Homo sapiens: one gene and its partner. The protein of the gene in region 2 purifies or fractionates together with the protein of the main gene of each other region. This does not show direct contact. Each region holds a gene or a part of one and is shown on either strand. Other genes may lie near its edges.

The links.
Region 1: the proteins of SOS1 (region 2) and EPS8 purify together in Homo sapiens (affinity purification with western blotting; 5 studies listed by BioGRID and IntAct, with this or other methods). This does not show direct contact.

Annotation. Positions count from the first base shown.
Region 1 is NC_000012.12:15,779,389-15,786,388, forward strand, and holds part of EPS8 (epidermal growth factor receptor kinase substrate 8), read right to left. Parts: intron 1-7,000. UniProt on the Homo sapiens protein: Signaling adapter that controls various cellular protrusions by regulating actin cytoskeleton dynamics and architecture. Depending on its association with other signal transducers, can regulate different processes.
Region 2 is NC_000002.12:39,019,195-39,027,634, forward strand, and holds part of SOS1 (son of sevenless homolog 1), read right to left. Parts: intron 4,944-8,440; coding exon 4,816-4,943; intron 4,032-4,815; coding exon 3,376-4,031; intron 1-3,375.

The sequences.
Region 1 (7,000 bases), on a different chromosome or scaffold from region 2:
ACATTCAGGTCTAAAATTACCATCAACTTTAAATGTCAAAATTATTGCAGAAAATTAGATAAACTGTAATCAATGTCTTCTCAAAAGAGACAGATTTTACACATATTTTTATTTGCAGCTTTGTTTTTCCACTTCAGATACTGGAAACATTCTATTGTTGCATTAAACCAACAAATATCTCAATAATATACATGTATTTCTATAATAAGGAATAACTTAGTAATATTCTAATGGTGTTAACAGAAGATAATTCAACAGCCCTCAATAAGGGACTTGAAAAATGTTTCTCCCTCATTTAAGTACAAACTTCTCTTCCTTCTATCAATCTTTTTTCTCACTATTTTTTCTTTCTCTTTTTCTTCTCCCCTTATATTAAAAACACAATTTTTCAATTATAGAACTCTGATCTCTTATCAAGCACATAATTCATTTAACAAGTTATTTTTTAGTACATTCCTAAATAGTATGTTTCAGGTTCTGTTCAGAAACTATGGCTTAGAATTTTAGACAGGCTTAAACAGGACTAGATCTGGCTTCATAGATTATTACATTCTTTTGTTGCTATGCTACTAAATGTAAGAATGGTTTGAAACAGGACCTCCAATTTCACCCAAAAACATGCAAGTTCTCTTTCTTAAATTCCATATAATCACTTGAGTATCACAGGACTGAAAAAGAACACATGAATTTGTTTGCTACATAAAGAGCTACATTTAGAAGGCCATGTGACTAGAAGAGAAGATTTATGCAATTCTTAAACAGGTTTGGTATCTTTATTCTCTTCTGCTACAATGTAATGAATACTCTATTGTATTGTTACTTACAAAAATGAAAAATAACTGCTCATTCAGTTCTTTCTAATACTCCCGTAAGCTCTGAATGTGGGAATGTGCAGAATTTCCCACCACTCCCATCATGCCAACCTATTCCGCACATGTCAAACATGCTCATCTTTCTACCTGGAGAGAGATGAGCGTCTCGCTTTGCCTCAAAAATTCATTCTATGAGACTCAAACATCACCTTCCCCAGTAAAGACTTTTCTGACTCCCTCGGCCACAGTGAGGCTCTCCTTTCTGCTATGTGCTGGGATAAACACACACACACACACACACACACACACACACACACACACACACACACAGGCATACACACTTTTCATTTAACATCCTCCATGGATAATAGTACCTACTTGACATTTCCACCTCTTTGATAAGAAAACCAAGGCAGATAAGGTCTGATTCCAAAGTCCATTGTTTGTTTGTTTTTTAATATATACTTCCTTCAGCTCCACACTGTACTAAAACGGGTGTCTGGCTGCCTCCATTCTCTGAGCCTTCTGACAACAAAAGGCAGAGATCCTGTCTTACTCATCTTTGTATTCCTGGTGTCTGGCACAGAACAGATACTCAACAAACACTCGATAAAAGATGAATGAATAAACAAATGAAATGTAGTAATGCTCAACTTCCTATGTGAGGAAAACTCATGCCCTTTTAAGTATTTATGTAAAAATATGATAATAAGTGCTAATTTCATTCAGCAAGCCTTTTGTGAGTGTGTCATATGGCTGACACATATGGTCATATGTTGGCCTTAAATACATCAGGGAACTTAACTGACTCAGTTCCCTGCCCTTGAGAAGCTTTAAATACAATGAGGGAAAGAAAGAAATAACTAGCTAATGCTACCATTATTTGCTTTATTTTGTCTAATTCCCCACAAATGTTTCTTTTTAAAAGATCCTCATTCTTTAAAACAACCGTGTTCCATCACCACATACCTCTGGTCAGTAGGATACAGATGAGTCAACAGAAAACAAAGCTAGAAGAATCTTTGTGGAGCTTAAATACACAAACTTTTTCGCTATTCTTGTTTGGCACAGTAGTAATTTGAGCAAGTATATAGCACAGTATTAAATAAAAGAATGTAATTAAGGACACTCTGGCCATCCTTGCCCTTTTTCTTTAATAAGGGCAGCACAACCAAGTGGAAAGGGCATGGATTTTGGAGTCAGGTCAGGGTTCTCATCCCAATTCGGTCCCTTTCTCCCCATGTGTGACACAAGTCACTTTTTCTTTCTGGGCCTATTCCTTTATCTGTAATTCTGAGATAAAGAAGCATGCCTTAAAGGGCTCTTGTAACAGTGAAAGAAGATAATGTATGTAACACCTGCCACACAAAAGGTACTATTATTATGTGAGCTGCTCCACCTGCTTCTTGAAGACTACTGGTTCTAACTTTAGTGCAACATTATAAATATTTCTAATCCTGTCCTACTCTGTTTTCTGTTGCTTATAACAGAATACCTGAAATGGGTAATTCTAAAGAAAAGGAATTTATGTCTTACAGTTATGGAGGTTAAGAAGTCCATGGTCGAGGGGCTACATCTGCTAAGAGCCTCCTTGCTGGTGGGGACTCTCCAAGAATCCCAGGACAACAGAGAGCATCACAGGGCAAGGGGGCTGAGTGTGCTCATGTGCTCACTCAAGTCTCTCTTCCTTTTCTTACAAAGCCACCAGTCCCACTCCCATGATAACCCCTTAATCCATTAATTCATGAATGGATCAATCACTTCTTAAAGGCCTCACCTCTCAACACTCTCACATTGAGGATGAAATTTCAACATGAGTTTTGGAGAGGACAAATATGTAAACTATAGTACATCACAATATCAATAACACAAAATGTATACCAAAAGAGAGGTACATTTGACTTTTGAAAAGCCAGGTTTGAACTACATGGGTCCACTTATACACAGATTTTTTTCAATAAATATATTTGGAAAAATTTTTGGAGATTTGTGACAATTTAAAAACACTCGGGCTGGGTGTGGTGGCTCATGCCTGTAATACCAGCACTTTGGGAGGCCAACTTGGAAGAACTGCTTGTGCCTGGGAGTTCAAAACCATCCTGGACAACACAGAGAGATCCTGTCTCTGCAAAAAATAAAAATAAAAATAAATTAGCCAGGCCTGGTGATACATGCCTATGGTTCCAGCTATTCAGAAGGCTGAATGGGGAGGATCACCTGGGCCTGGGTGGTTGAGGCTGCAGTAGGCCCAAGATGGCGCCACTGCACTCCAGCCTGGGTGACAGTGAGACTCTGTCTCAAAAAATTTTTTTAAATAAATAAATACAATAAAAACACAGACAAACCACGTAGCCAGGATAACAAAAACATTAAGAAAAAAGTTAGGTATGTCATGAATGCATAATATGTATATAAATACTAGTCTACTTTATCATTTTATGGTAGTAACCATAAAATTTATTAGAAAAAATTAAAATTTATCAAAACTTACACACACACGATACATAGTATCATTCGCGGTCAAGAGAAATGTAAACAAATGTAAAGATGCAGTATTAAGTCCTAACTGCATACAATTAACTGTAGTACATACTGTACTACTGTAATAATTTCATAGCCACCTCCTGTTGTTATTGCAGCGAGCTCAAGTGTTGTGAGTAACCGCTTAGTCCACTGTGTGATGTTAATCATCTCTGCGTGAGCAGTTCATCTCTCCGGTAAATTGTGTATCACAGTAAAAAATGATTTCTTGGTGTTCTCTTGTATTTTTCATCCTGTTTGGTACAATACCATAAACCTTGAATGAAAACGTGCCACTAGAGATGCCAGAAATGCTCCCAAGAAACAGAGAAAAGTCATGACATTATGAGAGATAAAGTTGAATTGCTTGGTATGTACCATAGATTGAGGTCTGCAGCTGCAGTTCCCAGCCCTGCCCCTCCATTCCCCCACCTTTTCAGAAAGAGGAGTCATCTGGTAAGCAAACAAAAACTTACAATATCAATAAGTACAATACAGTACTGGATTTTCTCTCCCTTATGGTTTTCCTAATAAAATTTTCTTTTCTGTAGTTTATTGTAAGAATACAATGTAATATACATATAATATACAAAATGTGTGTTAACAGACTGTGTTATCAGTAAGGCTTCCAGTCAACAGAAGGGTTACTAGTTAAGTTTTTGGGAAGTCAAAAATTATACAAAAATTTCTGACTGTGCAGGGGTCAGTGAGTCTAACCGCTGCACTATTGAAGGGTCAACTGTACTTGAAAAAAGTCACTTGTAGCAGGAAGAATAGCATGGGAAAAGATTCAAGACCACATAGTTAAGTCTCAGATTTCTAGCTGGTGCATACATCAACTGCCTCTTCTCAACATACACCCTGCAAATCCTTTATTCCAGATCCTTTTTGTGAAAAATCAAACTATTATTCCCTATGATAAGATCTAAAAGAACTGACAGATGTTACTCTATACTAACAATTCCATTTTCACAAAGAAGCATCTCTGAGTTAGTAAAAAAAAAAAAAAAAAAAAGAGGAAAATGAATTATGTACAATGTCTAGAAATAAATCTCAGCACACAGTACATGCTGTATTATATATTGGTTTCTAAGTCATTTCTCAACTGTTTACAGTAAGTAATTTTGCAGAACATGTAATAAAAATTTTAATAAAAACATTTTCAATTCTAAGCAATTTATAATCTATTAATTTAAAAATCACATTTACTTGTGCTGGTACAACTAGGAATCCATATGCAAAAAAAAAATTAATCTAGACACAGACCTTATACCTTTCATAAAAATTAACTCTAAATGGATCACATACCTAAATGTAAAATGCAAAACTATAAAACTTCTAGGAAAAACACAGGATAAAATCTATGTAGCCTTGGCAATGAGTTTTCAAATATAACACAAAAGCCTATCCATGAAATTGGTAAGTTGGCCTTATTAAAATTAAAGACATCTGTTCTGACAAAGACACTGTTAGGAAAATAAAAAGACAAACCAAACTGGGAGAAAATATTTGCAAAACACATATCTGATAAAGTGCCTGTATACAAAATGTATAAAGAACTCTTAAAATCAACAATAAGAAAACAACCCCATTAAAAAGTGGGCAAATGATCTGAACAGCCATCACACCACAGAAGATGTACAGATGAAAAGGGGTATGTGAAAAGATGTTAACATCATATGTCATTAGGAAATAGTAAATTAAAGTAACAATGACATATTACTACACACCTACTAGAATGGGTAAAATCCAAAAAAGCTGACAAAATCAAATGCTAGCAAAGATGTGGGGCAATAAGAACTCACATTCATTGCTGGTGAGAATGTAATAGTACAGCCACTTCGGAAAACAGTTTGGCAATTTCTTACAAAGCTAACCATAATCTTACCACAGGATCCAGCAATCGCACTTCTAGATATTTATCCAACGGATATAAGAACTTATGTCTACCCAAAAACCTGCATGTGAATATTCATAGCAGCTTCGTTCATACTTGCCAAAAACTGGAAGCAACCAAAATATCCTTCAATAGGTGAATAAACAAACCATGATATATCTGATAATGATAGAAAGAAATGAGCTATTAAACCTCAGGAAGACATGGATGAACCTTAAATGTGTATTGCTAAATGAAAGAAGCCAGTCTGGCAAGGCTGTATGATTCCAATTATACAACATCTGGAAAAGGCAAAAGTAAAGAGACAGTAAAAAGATACGTGGTTTTCTGGGAGAGGGGCTCACAGAGGTTATGAGTGAAGCCCAGGGGATTTGTAATGTGTTGAAATTATTCGGTATGATACTATGATCCTATAAGGATAGCTACATCAAATTAAGTATTTGTCAAAACCCAAAGAACTTCACAGGACAAAGAGTAAACTTTAATGTATGCAAACGTAAGCAAATCATTTAGAAGGTCAAGGAATCCCAAGGTGGAATGCAGATTGTAACAAAGAAATCTAACTGTATTATAAATGTGTGCTACAATCTCACTGAAAAGGATAGGAGGAAAGGTGCTTAGCTGACTAACTCTAGAAATGAGTAGAAGCTGTGAGACTAAAAGCAAAAGGAATAGTACATAAACACTGTACTCTTGATGCTAAAGTTGTTTCCCATGGGAGCACAGGTTAACAATTCCAATGCTGCTATACATCTATGATAGAAATGAATGATTAAGCAAATGTATGGCAGATGGTGCAAACCAGGTTTCTTCTCACTGTTGGAGTAAGTTTACATATAAACAAAGGGAGAAGGCTAGAATGATACCTGTGGTAATGAATTAGCATTACAGATAAAATGTAAATTCATAGTTAAACATGGATACAAACTGTTACATAAAAATATGTACAGATATGTTCATATACACACATGTATTTCTTGCTTTGTCACATGAGAGAACCTAGAAGCAATGATACCACAGTAGCAACAAGCACACCTAGCACCCAGATCTTGGTTTCTAACACCATTCCCCAACAAAATGATCCAGATTCCTTGGAGAAATGACTGATTCTAGGACTGTGGCAAGATGTATACAGATGAACCTAGAGCATCTCATAATACCAGAAAGTAAGGAAATGCTTCCAAAAAAACAAAATTCACATTGATGGTAGTATGTCAAAGAGGCACTGGAGTCAAGCTGTAACAAAGTAGCATTGTATTATAACCCAAAATATTTAGATAGATAGATAGATTTTATATTTATATAATATATATATATCCATGAGTCCAGAACAAAATAAATATGATTGAGTAAATAAATACATGGGGGAGAAGAGACAAATCTCCCACGGAGAAAAATATCCAAATAATTTATATAGATTTCTACCATCAAAGGGGGAAGCATAACTCTCTACTCCTTAAGTATAGGCTATACACAGTTCCTTCCTTCTAAGAGCACAGCATGAAAAAGGTGGAGAAAAGTGGAAAAATCTGATAAACACTATCTCAGCCAGGTGATAAAGATGAGTATCACAGTGACAAATCATACTGATAGTATATACCCTTGATATGAGATGAAAATGGCACGTTACCTCTGTGATCTTTCTACCAAAAACCTATAATCACAGTCTAATCATGAGAAAAAACATTAGATGAATTCCAATGCAAATGTATTCTACAAAATACCTGACCAGTACTCCTCAAACATCATCAAAAACAAGGAAGTCTAACAA
Region 2 (8,440 bases):
ATGCAAAGCTTTTATTTCCCATAAAATGTCAATTCTGAATTATTATCCTTACTTCAGGGTCATCTCATTTTTCTAAAATAGACTACCAAACTGGACACAGCACCACCTACCATTTATCTACTCGTGTTGTTTTAGGTCTCATTAACTTGTACTTTGTTGCCTACAACAACTCTGTAACAGACGTGAAATTCCTACTCTCAACTTTTTATTTGTGCATATTGCTTTGTGCTTTCTTACTTAGGATAAGGAAATAGTCTCTTCATACCATTGCCAGATTTAGAATGATCCATCCAATTGGATAATTTTTCCCCTAGTTTTTGGGACAAACCCCAAAGTTCTGATATAGTCAGCAAATTATGATACATCCAGAAACACCGAATCTGAGAGACAAGCTATAAATTAGATTCCACCTAAGACCCTGTTGCAATCTTTTAAGCAAGTTAACCACTTTCTAATTCACCTAAATTTAAATTTTTCTTTCCACAAAGCTTTCCCTTTAGTGAGCAAACTACATCAATAGACTAATAATTGGGTTTTGTAAAAAAATAAAAATAATAATAATGACCAGTATCTATACATAAAAAATCTATGCATTCCAATGGAAGTGTATCTATAGTCAGAGCTTACCTATATCCTATTTCAAGAAAAAAAAATTACTGACAATATCTTCATAGTACGCACGTTTGCCCAGAAATGAACAAGCCATTTATATTATTGGCAGTTCAAACCAAGGAAGTAATTTATTTATTTTTTTTGAGCTCACATCTGTACCAGATCCTTTTACTTAATTATTAACACATATAATTAAAAAATTACAACATATTCTATTCATGAAAACAATCACCTTATATGAGTCAATGTAACATGGTAGAAAATATACTCTATTTAGAGTCAAGAAACCTAATTCTTGACTTGTTCTGGAATTAACTCGTAATAGAACTTCTGGGAAATCATATAATCTTCAGGGGCCTTGGGATTTGTCTACAAAGTGAAGGCTTGGGCATCTCTTCTAGCATTAGAGATCTATAGCTCCATTTTGTACATTACTGTTAAAATATTTGAGGGATAAAGTTGGCTGACACCACAGTGAAGTCTGAATAAAGTAAGGTTAAACCAGTTTCTCTTCTGTTTTTATGACAATGTCTAACCAAACTATAATAATCTAAAAGATGTCTGTAAGTCGTGTCTTATAGTATTCATTAAATTTTCTCATGTATTATATCCAATGTCTTTTATTACAATTCTATATAATAAAATAAAAATGTGTAAGTTAAATGTTAGCTTTGTTTCAGTGTAAGCCACAACCTGTACTGCATGTTCTCCAATAAACATACCTACTAACCAAATCACAAATCCCTTTTCTCTTTGGGGAGGCTGAAGAAAGATGAGAGGAGAAGAGCAGACCAGTAGTTCTTAAAAACAAATGGTAACTTGATCTGTTACCATTGTAGTGAGGCCTTAAAAGTCCATTTCAGTTTTACAAGTTCACAGATGGTCTATTAAAAACCATTCTATGTTGCCAGTAATAACTTCAGTAACAGACCTTACAGAATAGCCCAAATAAGCTAACAGTTAACACTAATGTGTGTGTACTGTAAACCACAACTCACGAAAGCTGCTTGTAGACTCCAGTTTCACCAGTAATATATTTATGACATAAATTAAAATATTCAGTTAAGCTTCAAAAGAAGACAGAAAAGAAAAATATCAAAAAACTTAGCCACAACACTGGCCTTTTATTTCTCAAAAAATTATTGGAAGGAATTTTTTAAAAACATTTTTTTTAAGTAAAATAATCTCATCAACTTAAATTTTCAATACACTTAACTTTGGCAAAGTTCTATAAATCTTGAAATTTAAGTGTTTTATATTCATTATAAGTAAAAGCACTCAAAATATTACTCTATACCAAAGCTAAAAATTGATATAGAAAAGAAGTATCAGACAGAAATAACTAATAAAACATCATTACAAAAGTACCATGTCCACGGACTTTACCTAACATTGTACACATTAAGGAAAGAAGACTTTCAGGACTACAAAACAAGTATCAGCTTGTTCCAGTTAATTTTGCTTTAAAGTGTCCTCATTTAAAAAAATAAATAAAAGGGACAGTTCCCCAGACAATAGTTGTAACCATTCTTCAGCTGCTTATTAATAATCATAAATTAACTTTGTGAAATATAGCAATTTAGAGAAAACTTCTATCACTCAATCAAGTCTTACAGAAACAATTAAAAATTTTGTAATTTGAAAATGTTTTCCTGCCCAAGTATCACTGACTTGTGACAGTAAACACTAGTAGTAAGTCTTCTTACAATGCTCTACAGGAAAAAAAAAAAAAAAAAAAAAATTAAAACTTCTTTCTTACAAACACAGAGAAAAATCTAAAGATTAATTTTACTCCAAATGAGTCTAGGAACCCCAAACAAAAGTACTTAGGATGAAATGATAAAGTTTAGAATGCTCATGTTATAAAAATTCTATGAGTCCTCTAAGGGGACTTAAAAACCAGGAAAATGTGGCAAGAAGGGCAATTTGAACTTTTATAGCCTTAAAAATCTCTTAAGCAGAAAAGAAGTATTTTGCAATCACAAATTTTGGGTAACTGAATAAAAAACATTTTTATAGTTGTAGTCTAGATCATAAAGAACATAGAAAAGGTTGGTGAAGCACAACTAAATCGGCAGGTCATACTACCGAAAAATTGTACCTCTCAAAAAACAGCTTTATATGGAAAAAAATGACAATAACCTATTTGTTTTTCATGTAAAATCTAGGCAGCCTATTTACATTTCCTATGATTTTTTAAATTTTTGGGTCAGTAAAATAAATACACTGACTATAGACATTTCTAGGTGAAAAATTATAATAAAACTGGAATCCTTGGCTTCCAGGATTGCAACATTTATTATTAAATAATCAGGTTTAGGAGTGGAAACTGAGAGAAAGCAATGCCGTGTATATTTGTACTACCAGCACAATTTTGTTATATTAAAATTTTTATTTATAATCTCAGAAATGGAAAAAGAAGAAAGAAAAAAAAGATAAAGGAGTAAAAAACTTTTTAGATCCCAATAATGATGATTTACTACTAACTTTAGTCTTGTTTCTGTCACTTTCTAACTGGATAAATTTAGCCAAGTGACCTCATTTTCTCATCTATAACTGATGGTAAGGTTAAAAAAAAGTATTTAAGTGTAGTAGAAAAAGTAAAACATTCCAAAGAAATATAAAGTGGGGTATTTTTAGTCAAAGAAAAGAGGTCTTTGGTTGTTAGTTTCTTTTCTATTTTAGGCACAATAAACCCATGCAGGAAAGAAAATCAGTTTGAAGCAGGAAAACAAAAGTGACAGGCAACTGCATAATTCTTACCTGCGTACATATGGTACGTAAGCCTCTCTATAAGTTTAATAACAGTTCCTGCTTTGATAATTGGAATTCCAGCCTTGGGCTGCATGTTCTCTTCAAATATAATATTCTCTTCAGAGTCAGGCTCTGCAAATCTATAAACATCAGCACTAGGCAGCCTCATCTGCTCCTCTTTCTCTTCCTGTAGCATTGTTACATCAAGCATCCTTTCCAGTGTACTCCGGTACTGTAAAGATATCAATGCTGCCATCCAATTGTTTTTCTCTTCAGCTGACTTGGCAGAAAATATAACACTATTTTCATCTTTTAAAATTATTTCAAAAGCATGCTTGTATTCATTGGTGTCATCTTTATCATTAATTTGTACCTTTCGCATAAAAAACTTTTCTTTAAGACGATATTCTGCATTGCTAGCACCAGGAAGTCTTGGCTGCCCATGATTTGATTTACAGCAAATCATTAAGCCATCAAAGAGAAATATGTGTCTCTCATGTTTGGCTCCTACACGTGTAAGAGTTCCTTCCATTATAAATTCATTACAACACTGTCCAATGTCTTTTCCCTCCCAACCATCAATATTCTTCTGAATCTCGTTCATCTTCTTGATTGCTAGTTGTTTCCCCTTCATTTGCTGACTATAAAACCGACATGCAGATTCACTGGAATAAAGAAAAAGACATTATTAGTACATAGATGACAGAAAACCTAGAGCTCATGTAAGTAAGGGAAAGTGTAAAAGTAGATTTTTACAAGTCTCACTGAGAAGGTATTCACTAATTCCCCAAATAGATTAGAATTACAAAATTACACAATTTTGAAAATTAAAGCAACCTAGAAATTTTTTTCAGTGTTCTAAAAAGCACAATGATTGCTGACAAAATTCTCCTTAAATGTAACTACAAAATGATTATTTCTATCTTGGCTACTAAATATTTAGAATGACAACTAATAAAAAGTAGCCCAATACAGTAAAAAAAAGTAATCTGAAAGATTAAAATAAATTATTTAGAAGAGTTTAAATGGACAAGACCCAAAGCTAAAAACATGTAGCACATATTATAATCAGGAAAGTGGAAGCAATGTTATCTGAATTAATGCCTCAAGTTATATAATCCCTAAAATAAAGGACACTAATAATTTTACTTTGACAGAATAACGATGCCAACATAAATCTACCCGATACATTTTACTCTGTCTCTCCTTCAGCTTACCAGTTGACTCTCAGGAGGTCTTGTCTGGGAGTATGCAAGGAAAATGCACAAATATGAAAGGTTTTTCAAACAATAACAATTCTCTTGGCTTTGATGTCACTTCCTCTAAAAGACCAGGCTTGTCACTAAAACTATTTTCTTCATTGTTTACTTGAGGAGGGAACTGGGATCCCTGAATTTACACCACAATATTCAGGGAAAAAAGGATATTTTAAAAAGTAAAAATATTCACCTCAGTCTTCGTTTTGCAAGACTTTTAGAACATATTTTTTCCATACCACTCTGAACATTAAGCAAAGCTGTTATTGCTTGTTTTAAACATTCCTTGTCTTCTTGATCTTCACTTTTTTCTTCTAACTGCTGTAAAGCCAAAATGACAAATCTGAACCAGTAGTACATTTTTGGATAAAATAATAATAAACTCATTTAAGGATAAAAATAACATTTATTCAACTGTCACAATAAAAATTTTAAATGTGTCATCAAATATTCTTTTTAAAAGTGTTTTTCTTGTGTGTTACTATTAATACACAACCAAGTTTTCTACATTAAAAGACCAAGATTAGCAGTGTTAAGATGGGTTATATCTTGTGACAGGCAGTAATATGTAGTTTTTCAAGGTGCATACCACTGAAAAGAAATGGGGAGCATAATCGATCTACTGAATTATCATAGAGTTAGCATACCACTAAGCATGTAGACGAGGTTTTTTTTTTTTTAAGTGTGGAATTTGGTCTTAGGTTTCTGACCCCTATATTATTGTTATATAATATTGAGATGATAAGGAAGATAAATATACAGAGAACGATGCAATATAGTAGAAGGAATCTCAATTACAAAATCTAGGATCAAATTTTGACTCTACTTCTGTGTGACCTTGGGGCAAGTCACTTGATCTCTGAGTCTTACTTTTCCCATTTGCCAAATAAGGCTTATAAAAAGCCTACCCTGCCTACTTTTAGGGGTTGTTATTAAAAACCAAAGCACTTTGTAAATGGTAACACACAATGTAAGTGTAAATGGTTTTCTTTGTAATTATACTACAGAATTAACATTAGTATAATAAAGAACTTTGTCCATATCCACATTAAGATTTTGAGTGAAGCTATAATATACATATTTATGAAACTGAAACTCAAGCATATTTTCTATTACTGGCAAATATCTGTGTCAGACAGAACGTCTCTACTTAACAAGAACTAAGTCATCAGTAACTAATTGTCAATACAGTAAGGTGGCTATGATTCAAGCAAGCACTTAACAGATGTATGAGTCACAATAATTCACTCATACATCTTAAACCTGTTCCTGGTTACCAAAAGGAAAAGTTAAGAAATCACATATTGGCTGGCTGCAATGGCCTATGCCTATAATCTCAGCACTTTGGGAGGCCCAGGTGGGAGGATCGCTTAAGCCTACGAGTTTGAGATACCGTCTATTAAAATAAAATAAAATAACATTTTATCAATAGAGTTTTCATCCAACAATTTAGGAATACCTACTCTCTACCATGAATGAAAAGACTTGAGATACACAATCATGAAATATTCAAAGTGATTTATAAAGAAGTTTATTTTTCTTTTTTTTTTTTAGATGGAGTCTTGCTCTGTACCCCAGGCTAGGGTGCAGCGGTGCAATCTCAGCTCACTGCAACCTCTGCCTCCCAGCTTCAAGTAGTTCTCCTGCCTCAGCCTCCCGAGTAGCTGCGATTACGGGTGTCTGTCACCACACCTGACTGATTTTTTTTTTTTTTTTTACTTCTAGTAGAGACAAGTTTTCACCATGTTAGCCAGGCTGGTCTCAAACTCCTGACCTCAAGTGATCTGCCTGCTTCGGCCTCCCAAAGTGCTGGGATTACAGGCGTAAGCCACCATGCCTGGCTAGAAGTTTACTTTTCAATTAGCTTAAGTATTCATTAGTACATTAGTACTTTAAGGATTTTGTGTTTTTCACAGGTATTCCTTAAAGGTCAACAACACATTCCTTTCTGCTTCAATTGATAAAAATCAGTTACATGCATGCGCATGCACATACCACATGCACTGATGACCTGTGAAAAGTAAACAGATTTCTTACTTATATTCTAAACCATTTTTATTAAAATTTACTTAAAATACTTTAATGGTCAAATATTCTAGAAGTAATGAATACCATATTGTAATGTTTAATACTTAGCTTTTATTATCCAGATTTCTTATATTCATTATTAAAAACTCACCATACTTTCTACTAGAGGCATAATCTACATTTTTAGGAAAATTTTCAGTCTTAACTGTGTTAAGTAAAAGAAAAATTTAGGCTGGGCACGGTGGTTCATGCCTGTAATCCCAGCACTTTGGGAGGCTGAGGCGGGGGGATCACGAGGTCAGGAGTTTGAGACCAGCCTGGCCAATATGGTAAAACCCCGTCTCTACTAAAAATACAAAAATTAGCTGGGTGTGGTGGCACACGCCTGTAGTCCCAGCTACTCGGGAGGCTGAGGCAGAAGAATCGCCTGAACTCAGGGGTCAGAGGTTGCAGTGAGCCGTGATCGTGCCACTGCACTCCAGCCTGGGCAACAGAGTGAGACTCCGTCTCAAAAAAAAAAAAAAAAAAAACAGAAAAATTTATTCCTAACAATTCTCAACATAAAAAGGGTAACGAAAGATATTTTCCAAAGGATAAGAGACTTTAAAAGTGTACATATTAATACAAAAATCAAATATCTTTTATTCATAATATTGTTCTTCAATATGGCCAGCTAGATTAAAGAAAGCCAATGGCCAGGGTTCATAAAGAAAGATACTAGGTTTTTACTTAACAGATATTACTAGTAGGCTGAAGGCTGGAATCCAGGTAATCTCTCAAAGTACCTTCCATCCCTATCATTTGAAACTATTTGCCTCTCACATGGCAGAATTCTGGGAGACAAATAAAATGTTACCATTAAACATTATCAAGTTTAGTCTTTAAAGCAGCAGATAATCTAACATTGAAAGCTATATACCAGGGGTATCCAATATTTTGGCTTCCCTGGGCCAAACTGGAAGAATTATTATCTTGGGCCACACATAAAATATACTAACACTAACGAGAGCTGATGAGCTTTTTAAAAATTGCAAAAAAATCTCATAATGTTTTAAGAAAGTTTACAAATTTGTGTTGGGCCGGGGGTTAGACAAGCTTGCTGTATACCTTAAGGCAAATTTAATGAAAGCACCACTGAACGATGAATTAGTTCACTGAGTTGATTGAGAATTTAATCACTCAAAAGCAAAGCCCAGAGAAATTCAAGTCAGTAAGATACAAGGCAATTTTTCGGTCTTAAATAACTAACAGGTAGCAGAATATTGAGCATTTGATATTTTGTCCTGGATACATTTTTTATATTTTTAATTCAGGAAAACATACCTAATGGTAGACAAAATATATAATTCTCATACACATAAAAATATTTATAAAAGAAAAAATCCACTTGGACATCCTTTGATTTTCTATCCTAAAAATGTTTCAAGTTTTGGAATCATTTATCTACTATTTAACTGTAGCATTTTACATACAGAATATTCTGGTATCTCAAAAATGTTAATATTTTAAAAGCCACAAACCCAAAGTACATTTCAAACCCATAAAACTTTCCTGATGAAATACTTTTAAAATGTCATTTTTACCTTTATAGCATTAGGCAAGCCTCTAAAATAAATTTCAGTGTAATAAATGACCTTTCTTCTACCACTTTTTGCTTCTTTTACTTAACATAGCTAATTTAAACTTGGCACTGGTGCAATATAATTCAAGCTAACTACCATCAAAAGGGTGGCTTATTGTGGCTACAGAGACAAAGCAGTGGCAATTAGTATGTAAATGAGACTCAACAA